Linked DNA regions of Homo sapiens: region 2 is linked to region 1. Evidence: fine-mapped expression QTL. A gene starts in region 1. The other region holds a variant in brackets. All regions are shown on one strand. Distances are from middle to middle. Region 1 holds the start of LINC01990 (long intergenic non-protein coding RNA 1990). Region 2 overlaps LINC01990 (long intergenic non-protein coding RNA 1990).

Region 1 (5,383 bases):
AGGTAGCAGAGGGTCAGGAAAATTCACATGTGTGGTGCTGTCTGAGCAGAGTTTTGGGAAATGAATGGCATTTTCCAAGAGACAGGTGTGGAAGGAAGGCCAGGCAGAGGATGGGAATAATGCAAGAACACAAAGCAGGGGACAGCACTATATGTGCAGAGGACTACAGCGTGTTTAGTATTGCTTAAAGTTTGATGAGAGGCAGAATTGTGGGTGATGAAAAGTAGTAATATCATGTAATATTTTATCTGCCTTCTTCATAAGTCTAATTTTAATTTTATCCTGTAGAATGGATGGGAGATCAGCAAATGATTTTAGGTAAAGGAAATAATTTGCTCAGAGTTGTTGAGAAAAGGCAGTAGTCTGCATGGTTCTCTCTTTCTTTCTTTCTTTTGAGAGAGGGTCTCTCTGTTGCCCAGGCTGGTACACAGTGGTGCACTATGGCTCACTGCAGCCTTGACCTCCTGGGCTCAAGCAACACTCCCATCTCAGCCTCCTGAATAGCTGCACTACAGGTGCACACCACCACACCTAGGCCGGAGTGCAGTGGCATGACCATGGCTCACTGCAGCCATGAATTTATGGGTTCAAATGATCCTCCCACCTCAGCCTCCTGAGTAGCTAGGACTACAGGATGCACCACCATGCCCATTTTTTTTTCTTTTTGCAGAGATAGGGTGGGGGTGGGGCTGGGGGTTGCGGGGGGGGGAGTGATGGATTGTCTGTGTTGCTCAGGCTGGTCTTGAACTTCTACTATCCTCCTGCCTTGGCCTCCCAAAGTGCTGGGATTACAAGCATGAGCCACCATGCCTGGCCCCCATTTTCCTTTATAATATTAGCGTTCTTACCAGGTAACATGAGCAGAAATGAAATAATCGAGTTTCACACGGTTTCTCTCTCCCTCTGGGAGAGAAACTAGATTAACAGTCAAAAATCCAGAAGGCAAGCAATTTGAAGGGGAAACTAAGGATAATCAAGATTTGACTGTACACTTTTTGTAACTGTTGAATTATTTACCTTCTTTGACTCCTCCTGGACTGAGCCAATGTAGTCTGGATAGTAGAAAGGACCTTAGCCAAGAAACCAGGAACAGCCTCTCTGAATCTCTTTCTGCAATTGTGTGTTTCCAGAAAAATTGCTTCTTTGAGTTTGTTTTCTGATCAGGAAAATGAGGAAGTTTGATTACATCAAGGCTTCTCAAGTTCTAATTCTATCACATTCACCTAAGGTGGTTCCAAAATATACAGATTCCCAGATCTGACTGAAGGACACATTGTAGAGGTTGGGCTGAGGTCTCTGTATCAGACTGGGCGTAAAGTGTAATGTCCTGTCCTGCCACTTATTAACTGGGTGACCTAGAGTAAGTTACTTCATGACTCGTATATTTCTCATAGGTAAAGCAGGGATGATAATATCTCTACTTCATATGTCCCCGGGAGGGTAAAATGATAGAATCCTTTTTAAGTAGCAAGTATATTGCCTGTCACATATTAATCATTCAACAGATGTTATATATTATTTGTATAGCCCACAGTATTCACTGTGTGTGTGTGTGTGTGTGTGCGCGCGCGCGTTTGGTGCAAGGTAGACGATCCATAAGTATCTGCTGCGTAAATAAAAGTTGTTTTTTTTTTTTTAGCAACTTCTTTTGTTCTCAGATCTGAAATGATTAGCCCAGGAATTACTTCCCTAAAAAGGTAAAGCTAGTTTGAGAGAACTGCTTAAATGTGGCGCTCAATCTTTGCTATCTTAGACTGAGAGCCTCATGATAATTAAAAAATAATTTAAAGATGAAAGTCCTACTAGAGTGGGCGAGCTGATTACGAAAAGGAATGAGCCTCAGAGACTGTTAGCCGGATCCAGCCGGCCACTGCGTAATCCACTCCAGTGACTCTCACCTAGGTGCGCATCTCCATTTTATCTCACAAGATGCCGTGAAATTCTCAAAGTCATTGTAACTACAATTGATTTTGAATCACAAAAAAAGCAATATTCCATTTTCCGTGTTGTTGACCAAGCAGAAAACAGAACGTAACTTTTAAAACGCTTGAAAATCAGGGCTATCAAAAATAGAGAACTTCTATTCGCCATGAACTCGCTGATGCAAACAATCAACGCACACTGAACCGTGTGTTTTTCTGGGTGGTGGTGGTCCCTCGCCAAATAGTCAGCGTTTGGTTCTCCGCGTCTGTAGCGAGAGGAGTTACAGTTTGGTACCGGCAGGGAGGAAATCGCCTCGCAATCTCTGGAGGTGGCCTCCTAGAAAGATCGCCGGGAGGGGAGGAGCCCCGATTGTCCTGGAAGAAAAGCATGGCCCCATCCGGGAAGTCACAGCTTGCCGGGAGCCCAGGGCTGGCGGCTCTGGGTCCTGGAGGTGGCAGACGGCGGAGCAGCCGGCCTCGTAGCCCGGGCCTGCGCGCCTGGCAAGGGGCTCAGTGTGTGCGAGTGAAAGACGCACACCGGGCGGACCTGCGTGGGCTTCGGCCTCGCCCCGCCGCGCGCGGGGTTGCGGCTGAACCTGACCAGGGCTCATCCCTGCCCGGCGAGGGTAAGGGCGGCCCGGGATCCGCTGCTGCTCGGATGGGAGCCGCTCGGGGCCGGGATCCCTGGGCCTTGCGGGGGCGCGGCAGCCCCTCCCCCCGGAGCCCGCGCTTCCGCCCGAGCCCCGGCGGCGGCGGCGGTGACCGTGGCCCCGCCGCGCCTTCCGCCTGGGAGCTGCCGCCGCCCGCCCGCGCCCTTGTGCACCGCGCCCACAGGCCGCGGGAACCCAGAGCGCCCGGGCCCAGGGGCCTCTGCCGCGCGACTGAGACGCACTCCGAGCTGGACGTGTGGAAGGTTCGGCCAGCTCGGCGTTTCGCCCCCGCTGGGGATGGGCCACTGGGCACCTGCAGCCACCCAAGAGCGGGGAGTTGGCCGGGCCCTGGCCAGGGGCCGCCGCCACAGCGTACTGGCAGGGAGAACAGAGCTAGCTAAGCCTCCTTCCTCTCCCAGATTCCCAGGGAAACTGGACAGCCCGACGCCCAGAGCGGACGGGCGAGAGCCCCTGAGGTGCCAAGTGGACCCCGGTTCTGCTGCTGCCACTGGCCGATTGGGGACGCCGGCACTTGCGCTGTGGGCGTGTGGTGGGGCATTTCCGTTATCCTCTCGAAGACACCCCGCCACTATTCCTGCTCAAACAAGCACAGTCTGGTGTGCAAGCCGACCGTACCTCCTCCCCTCCCTCCTTTCTTGCACGCACCTTCGTTCGTCTATCTATTCTTACCTTCTTCCCCAGAGCGCCAAGACAAATGTGGACAAGAGTGAAGAAGTTAGGATACTGCCAAGTGTGTGTGTATTGGGGTGGGGGGGTAGTAATAAGCGGGGAGAAAGTGATGAAAATAAAATTAGAAATCCCAGAGTATGTAGCAACACACACACACACACACACACGCACACACACACGTTCCCAGCCTGTTAGCAATCTTGGCTATGTCCAAGTGGAAGCAAATTTTAATGCTCGGTCTCAGAAGAAAATTTCACATATACAGGCTTCAGAGGTAACGGGGTAACCGATAGCTTCCTTTTACTTCTCGGCATTTATTTTTGCTTTTCTGAAGCATAGTCCTATGTTTATTAAAGGGACCACAGGAGTACACGCTGTTTGAAAGCCATTCCTGGACACCACTGAGGCCGGCTTCCCAGGGAGCCTTTGTCGCCTCTGCAGCAGAGGTCACTGGACTCTCCTCAAGGTGTAATGTGAGGGAACAGGTGCCTCGGGGGCTTGGGAAAACACCACGCTGTGCTCTGATGTGTGTCCCCATCCCGGGAGAAGGCAAGTGCTTTGCATAAGGACCAGATGGGTTGCTGAATAGGGAGGTGGAAAACAAATAGACCCTTGGGTGTATCTTGAACCCCTTCAACACCCCCCCTTCCCCACTCCCCGCCTTCACCGAAGCAGTGTCAGAGTCCTCTTCGATCCAGCATGCTCTCCTACAATGGCGAAAAACTGCATTAAAACGAGGCAGTCGGAGCTGACTGCGGAAACCCATGTTCTTAGAGAGTCGTCTGGCTACTGCGTAGTCCTGGAATATTCTTTTTTTCAAAAGGCCTCTTCCAGTTGATTCCAACCGGGTTCGGGTTATTGTTCTCACCACCGATAGGGGGCAGCAGGTGTCCTGCGATGCCCCGGGGATGTGCGCGCAGACTGCCCTGCTGTCCCCGGGAATCCGACTACACTGAACGTTTGGGGCAGAAGCAGGAGCTGCTGCCTCTAAGTCCACCGCAGCAGCTGCCGGGACTTGGGCCTCCCAGCCTGGGCGCCTGGGGGGGGCTTGCCCTGTGCAAAGGGTGGGCGAAACCATCTGTGCACCAAGCCTGCCCCTAAACTTAGCGTACAGCATAGATAAATAAACTCAGTTGTATGCAAATGCTATAATTAAAATATACAGTCATTTGAAAGTACTGTAGGCTCTATTGGAGTTTTTAATTGTTTTTGAGTTTTCTCAATCAGTAGAGAATTTAAAAATACGGCTATCACAGTCTGTTTGGAGGGTGGTGGTCTGTTACGTTGAATTTTAAAAGGGCGTCTGTCCCTAGAAGTTGGGAACTACTGATCCACAGAATCGTTTGATAACCGTGGTAAAGATTCCGAGGCATCTCGGAAGGGAAACTGGGAGGACTGAGCTAGTCCTAGCAGGGTGTGTGTCCGCCCGCGCCGCGAGGCGTGGGCAACACAGCCCCATCCCGGGAGCGCGGAGCTATGGCAGCTGGGATTGGTTCAGATCGAGAGTCCTGAGGGGCTGGGATTTCCTGAAAACCTACTTCACTTGGTAAGCCAGAGCGCTTGAGTTTTCGGAATTCCCGAGGAAAGGTTCTATATATTCTCCAAATCCACATTTTCTCAGATATAAGCACTTTTTCCCTAAATTAAAAATATATTTGGGGTTTGTGGAGCAGTAATTTTTTTGGAAGAAAGAAAAATCCAATGTAAAAATGTAGAGACTAGCTATTATAGTCATCTCTAAATAGATTTTTGAAGTGATAACGGCTAAATTATCCAAATGAAAAAAAATGTGTAATAGTAGTAACAAGGCTGTGCCCCTACTTTATGAATCTCACGCACAATTAAAAACTCTAATCCCTGAAATACCTTTGGAAGGGAGGGAAGGATTACAGACTAATTATAGGATTTATAACACAACACTAAGATGTTTTCATTTTATTACAATAATGAACAAAACATTGATGATATCTACTTTTAATGTAATTCTTCCAACATCATAACAGATTTTAGAAATGCAACCATAACCACTAGAGAAGGGAAGAATTTCAATAGCACACTAAATTGTCAGAAATTTCATTAACATGGAAAGTTCATATCATGATGTCAGAATATAGACTCTCT
Region 2 (5,383 bases), 29 kb before region 1:
GTCTGGTAAATGAGAATAATTCTATCTATCCTCTTATTTATTTCAGAAGAAAAATTTCAGAGTTTTTAAGGTATTTTTTAAAATGGGAAACTTAATAAGGAAATGGCATTACTTCTACTACTACTATTATTATTGTAAATATATTTAGGTATTATTTAATACTTAAGTAATTTTAAGTAATTTATTTAAGTATTATTAGTTTTTAGAATTCGTGACCTCTTATGGCCAAACTGGTTTTTAATAAGCTAGAATTTAGTAATAGGTTTTTTCCATTGAATTAGGTTTTAATAGAACCTAAGTTATTACTTAATGGATAATTTCTACTTGGAAATTGGTAAGACATATTGAGTATACATTAGATATGCTGAAGGGGCTATTTGTCAAAATTACCTGTTTTATAGGTATACTGAACACAATTTTCAATCTGTTATTAGTAGAACAATAATACTGGTCTACTTCATAGGATTTGTGGATTGTACTAAACATATTTAAATTCAAATATGTTTTTTGGCTTCATTGAACTATAATTAACATACGATAAACTGTGCATGTTTAAAGCATACGATGTGATGCATTTTGACACCCTTGCAAGCATCTCCATCAAGGTAGTGAATATATCCACCACCCTCAAAAGTTTCCTTCTGCCTGTTTATCATCCCTTCCTTCCTACCTCTTTTCAGGGTGCCCTTCCCTCCACTCCCTAGGCAATCACTGATCTGCTTGTTTTTCATCACTATTGGGTAGTTAACATTTTCTAGTCTTTTTTTTTTTTTTTTTTTGGTCTGGCCTCTTTCACTCACCATAATTATTTTGAGATTTCTTCCTGTTGTTGGGTGTTGTTTTCCATAGTTTGGTTCATTTTTATTGCTGAGTCAAATTCTGTTGAATACACCATTTTCTGTTTATTCACCATCAAATGTTTTGTATGTATTTATTCTTTTCTTCTCTAAGCTAAACTTCATGTTCACTTCAATTCTGCCTCCCGAAGACTTCATGGTATCACAGGAGTTTTGTTGTCAGCCCATCACATCTGGATCCAAATCACAGCCATATCTCTTGTGAGTGTGTGAACACGGCCTTTGCAGGTTTCTTCTCTGGGCTGCAGTGTCCTTATCTGAAAAATGAGCATAGTAATATGTACCTCTTAGGACTGTTGTAAGGGTGAAATATGTAAAGCATATAGAACAAAACTTGGCACACAGTAAGTGCTATCTGGTTGGTAGTTATTATTATTACCGTCATTAATTGCATATGATATGTTTGGTAGAACTTCCAGCCCATAATAAACTCTCAACAAATGTTAGCTATTATTATTATTCATACTAATATCACTATAGCACATAACAACTCTTCATTTCTTTCCTTCCTTCCTTGTCCCTCTTATGTTTTCAGTCTCTTCACTATTTTTGTTACTAATAGTACCCGTGTTACCTGACCAGGCAAAATAAAGGAGGGCAGTGATTTCCAAAGTATGATCCCAGAACCAGCAACATTAGCACTGATTTGGGAACTCATTAGAAATGCAAATTCTCAGGCCCCACCCCAGACCTACTGAATCAGAAACTCTGGGGGATGGGGCCATGGTCTGTGTTTTAACAAGCCTGCCAGGTGATTCTGATATAGCTAAAGTTTGAAAACTAGTGCAGTCGGGTAATCGCCAGGCTGGTGCAGGAGTTAATGCAGGCTCAGTTCACGTCAACTTTCTTGTTAGGAAAAGCACACTGTTGACTAATTGAGCTTAATATCAACTAAAACCCCTAAGTCCTTTTCACACATGTTGCTGCTAATCCCCATATTCTCCATCTAGCACTTGTACAGGATTCTTTTTGGACTGAAGTATAAGTCTTTACATTTATCCCTATTAAACTTAATCTTGTTAGATTCGGCCCATCGCTTCAGTCATGTTTGGGGAAATTTTAGTTCAGCTGGAATGAACCATGACAAAAAAGCAGGGCCCAGAGACCAAGGAGGAATGTTACAAGGACAACATCCTTTTATATATTGGCCGAATACTGGCCAATGAGATACTGACTATGGTGGGCTTCTAATTAAACACTTGAGACCCTGGGGGGATGTGGTAATTTGATTTCAGTTTAATTCAACTAACATTTATTGGGCACCTACCAAGTTCCTGGCTGTGAACAAGGTACCAGAGGGGGTGCTAAATAGCTCACTCTTTAATGTCAGATATTAATGTCTACTATCTGACATTAGTAGTAGAGACAAGTAGAGATGAAGGGGTTTTTGGTTTTGGTTTTGTAGCAGGCACATTGTAGCCCAATATACCAATACTCACAAGTTCCTTAAGGAAGATAACTAATATTCTTTGAGCACCAGATCCTCCACCATATGCTTTGTTGACACTTCCATATTTAATTTTCAAAGCAATCATAGGAATGATTGCCCCATATAAATTTGAGGAAACATAGATACAGAGGTTAATGCATTTCTTCAAGGTCACACAGGTAGTTAGCAATAGAGCCAGAGGATGCTCCAAATCTGTATGGATTTAAAGAACATACTGCATATAAGCTTTCTCCTTGTGATCAAGAAAATTAAGCTCTTTAAATATCAAAACCCCTAGTAGCTTAAAGTCCAACCATAAACTATTGATTTATAATAGTTAGGTTTAAAATCCTAAAAACATTAAAATAGCGATACATTACCTAGTCCTATATACACAGAATAGTGCATTTAGCTGTGCTCACAGTCCTAATTTAAAACAACAACAACAACAACAACAACAAAACTTATGTTTGGGCCAGGCGCCGTGGCTCATGCCTGTAATCCTAGCACTCTGGGAGGCCGAGGCAGGTGGATCACTTGAGGTCAGGAGTTCGAGACCAGCCTTGCCAACATGGTGAAACCCTGTCTCTACTAAAAATACAAAAATTACCTGGTCGTGGTGATGCATGTCTGTTATCCCAGCTACTCAGGAGGCTGAGGCAGGAGAATCACTTGAACCAGGAAGGCGGAGGTTGCAGTGAGCCAAGATCGCGCCATTGC[A/C]CTCCAGCCTAGGGGACAGAGCAAGACTCCATCTCAAAAAAAAACTTATGTTTGGTTTTGTTTTTATTTGCCTCTTTTAAAGTGTTAGCCACATATTTTAATCCATCTATATCACAATATTATTATATAAATATACAATATTAATACAATATTATTAATATTATAACTCCAAGTTGTTACCTGTAGCAACCAAATCTTTGGAAAATATATAATTTTATCCTCTAGGGGGCAAAACTAATCAATTCTATTCTAGCAGGTAATAGCTGTTATATTTTACTGATACATAATGTGCATTTTAGTAAAGTATCTTGTAGTGTAATGGAAAGACACTGGACTTGGAGTCTAAAGATAAAAATTTGCTTCCACTTACTAGCTATCTCACCCTGGGCAAAAAAATTTAACTTATATAAACCTCAGTTTTTAGATCTCTAAAATGGGATGATAATGTTCATGGGGTTGTGAAAATTAACTGAAATAGTATTTATGAAGTTTCTCTGTGGTCTGGTAATGTTTTACAAATATAAGGTTTTTTTAAACTTATCTATTTTACAAGCTACCAAAATGTGAAATATTTTGGACACTTCTGCCACCTACACATCTACCTAATTCATAGAGTAGAATTTGAAATTTTTGAACTTCTCTGAAAATGCATCCATTCTTTCATAGTTTCTTTTTAGCAGTAGAGTTTCCTGTAGAATTACATACAAGCAGTGGAATAGAACTGATATTGAAATTCTAGATTCTGTTTGTTAACTTGCATTTCAAAGATAAATTCTGTTTAACCAGCATTAATATTGTCAACACTACTGGCATCATCATTATAAAAAGATTCCCACTAGGTGCCAGCATGCCTGAAGCCATGTGCTATGGTTGTATAAAGTGAGTTAAGCTGGTAAGAAGCCTAGTTCTTTAGGACTTTATAATATGGGCAGACTTTACATGAATAGGGGAAAAAATAAAGATATGCATTTGAATCCCTGGATTTAAACCCCTGCTGTATCCCTTATTAGGTGTATGACCCTAGGCAAATGACAGTCTTTTAAACTTCAATTTATTCATCTTTATAATTGGGATAACAGTACCTACCTGATAGAGATGTTGTGAGAATTAAATGCTATGTTATGGATAGAGTGCTTAGTACAATAGCAGTATTTAATGCCCAGTTAATATCAGATATTATCTGAGCTAAGAACTCTATACTGCAATATCAAACTCCTAAACTTTTCATCTTTCTTTTCTGGTCCTCATACCATGCAAAAATGGGGTTACTCTGATAATAATGAATAAATGTGAAGCCTGGAAATTACTGTCAATCACCTGCACTGCTACATTAACCCCCTGGAATCACAGAGTCTTAGAGTAGGAACCCCAGACTTCGAAAGTCATTTAGACCAATGACCTTGTTTTGCAAATGGGGAAACTGAGATCCACTCAGGTTAAGTGTCCTATCCAAGGCTATAGAGCTAGTTTGTGATGAAGCTGGACTAAAATCTGGGCTCTACACTCAAAGTATGTCACTCTCCCTCCTCCATACTGTCTCCCTAGACAGCTTGGTCATTTTAATCCCTTCTTATATTTGCCTTGCCAATAGGACCATGCTGTTCTGGCCTGCTGCCAATTTAGGCTGTCCAGTTCCAGCCAAGTCTTCATGGTTAATCTTGTTATTCATCTCCTCTTTTTTTCCTAGCATGTAAGTTTCACAATGTATTTAGCAGGGGGAAAAACCCAAAACCTGCCTTTGTTTTCCAAATAAAACCTTATTTGTGTCAAAAAAAAAAAAGTGAAATCAATAAAAGCTTCCTTGTTTGGATAGGGATGGGTTGTGAGTCCACAGGCCCATAGGCTCAGCTCAGACCCTTCATTCCCATTCCCTCTAAAGTGGTCCCTGAGGGAGTTCTACTGAACTCTCAGGTTTCTCTTAGCAACACAGTTTAAAAGTTACTATCTCACATGTACACTTAACAATGGTTATTCCTGGGGACTCTCAACTTGTCAGGAGCATCTCAGGCCACTTCCATATGTGTAATCCTGTTTAGCATTTCTGTATTTTTTAATACGCTAAACAGGATTACACAAATTATGACATATTTTAAATGTTCCCACTCAATAGATTAACATTTTAAATTCAGATAAAAAATTGATGACAGCAGGTGTGGCCTCCTTTTGATATAACACCAGAAGTTGAAAATTGAGATACTTCCACTTCCATCCCCAACTTGGCATTGGCCCTTACTTTTCTTAACTTGGCCTGTTCCTCAATTCTCAAGATCCAACTCAACCATCATTTAATGGGTGTCCACTATGTGTTAAGTTCCCCAGTAGGTACTTGGGCCACAAAGATGAAAAAGATATAATCTTTGCTCTTCAAGCAAGTAGC

What was found. PIP is the estimated chance that this variant, and not a neighbour inherited with it, causes the effect.
Region 2: its variant is the best candidate, but not a certain one, in a credible set for the expression of LINC01990 in tibial artery (GTEx, PIP 0.90).

Annotation. Positions count from the first base shown.
Region 1 is chr3:107,428,838-107,434,220 of GRCh38, reverse strand. It overlaps LINC01990 (long intergenic non-protein coding RNA 1990), which reads right to left and starts at 3,291. Exons shown (of 3, transcript NR_110039.1): 1 at 3,263-3,291. RefSeq lists an enhancer at 2,096-2,285 and a silencer at 2,496-2,745.
Region 2 is chr3:107,458,304-107,463,686 of GRCh38, reverse strand. It overlaps LINC01990 (long intergenic non-protein coding RNA 1990), which reads right to left. Exons shown (of 3, transcript NR_110039.1): 2 at 2,897-3,014; 3 at 1-1,114. Among named protein-coding and RNA genes, the nearest start is that of LINC01990, 30 kb to the right of the region's middle. The variant A/C (reference allele first, on the strand shown) is at 3,007.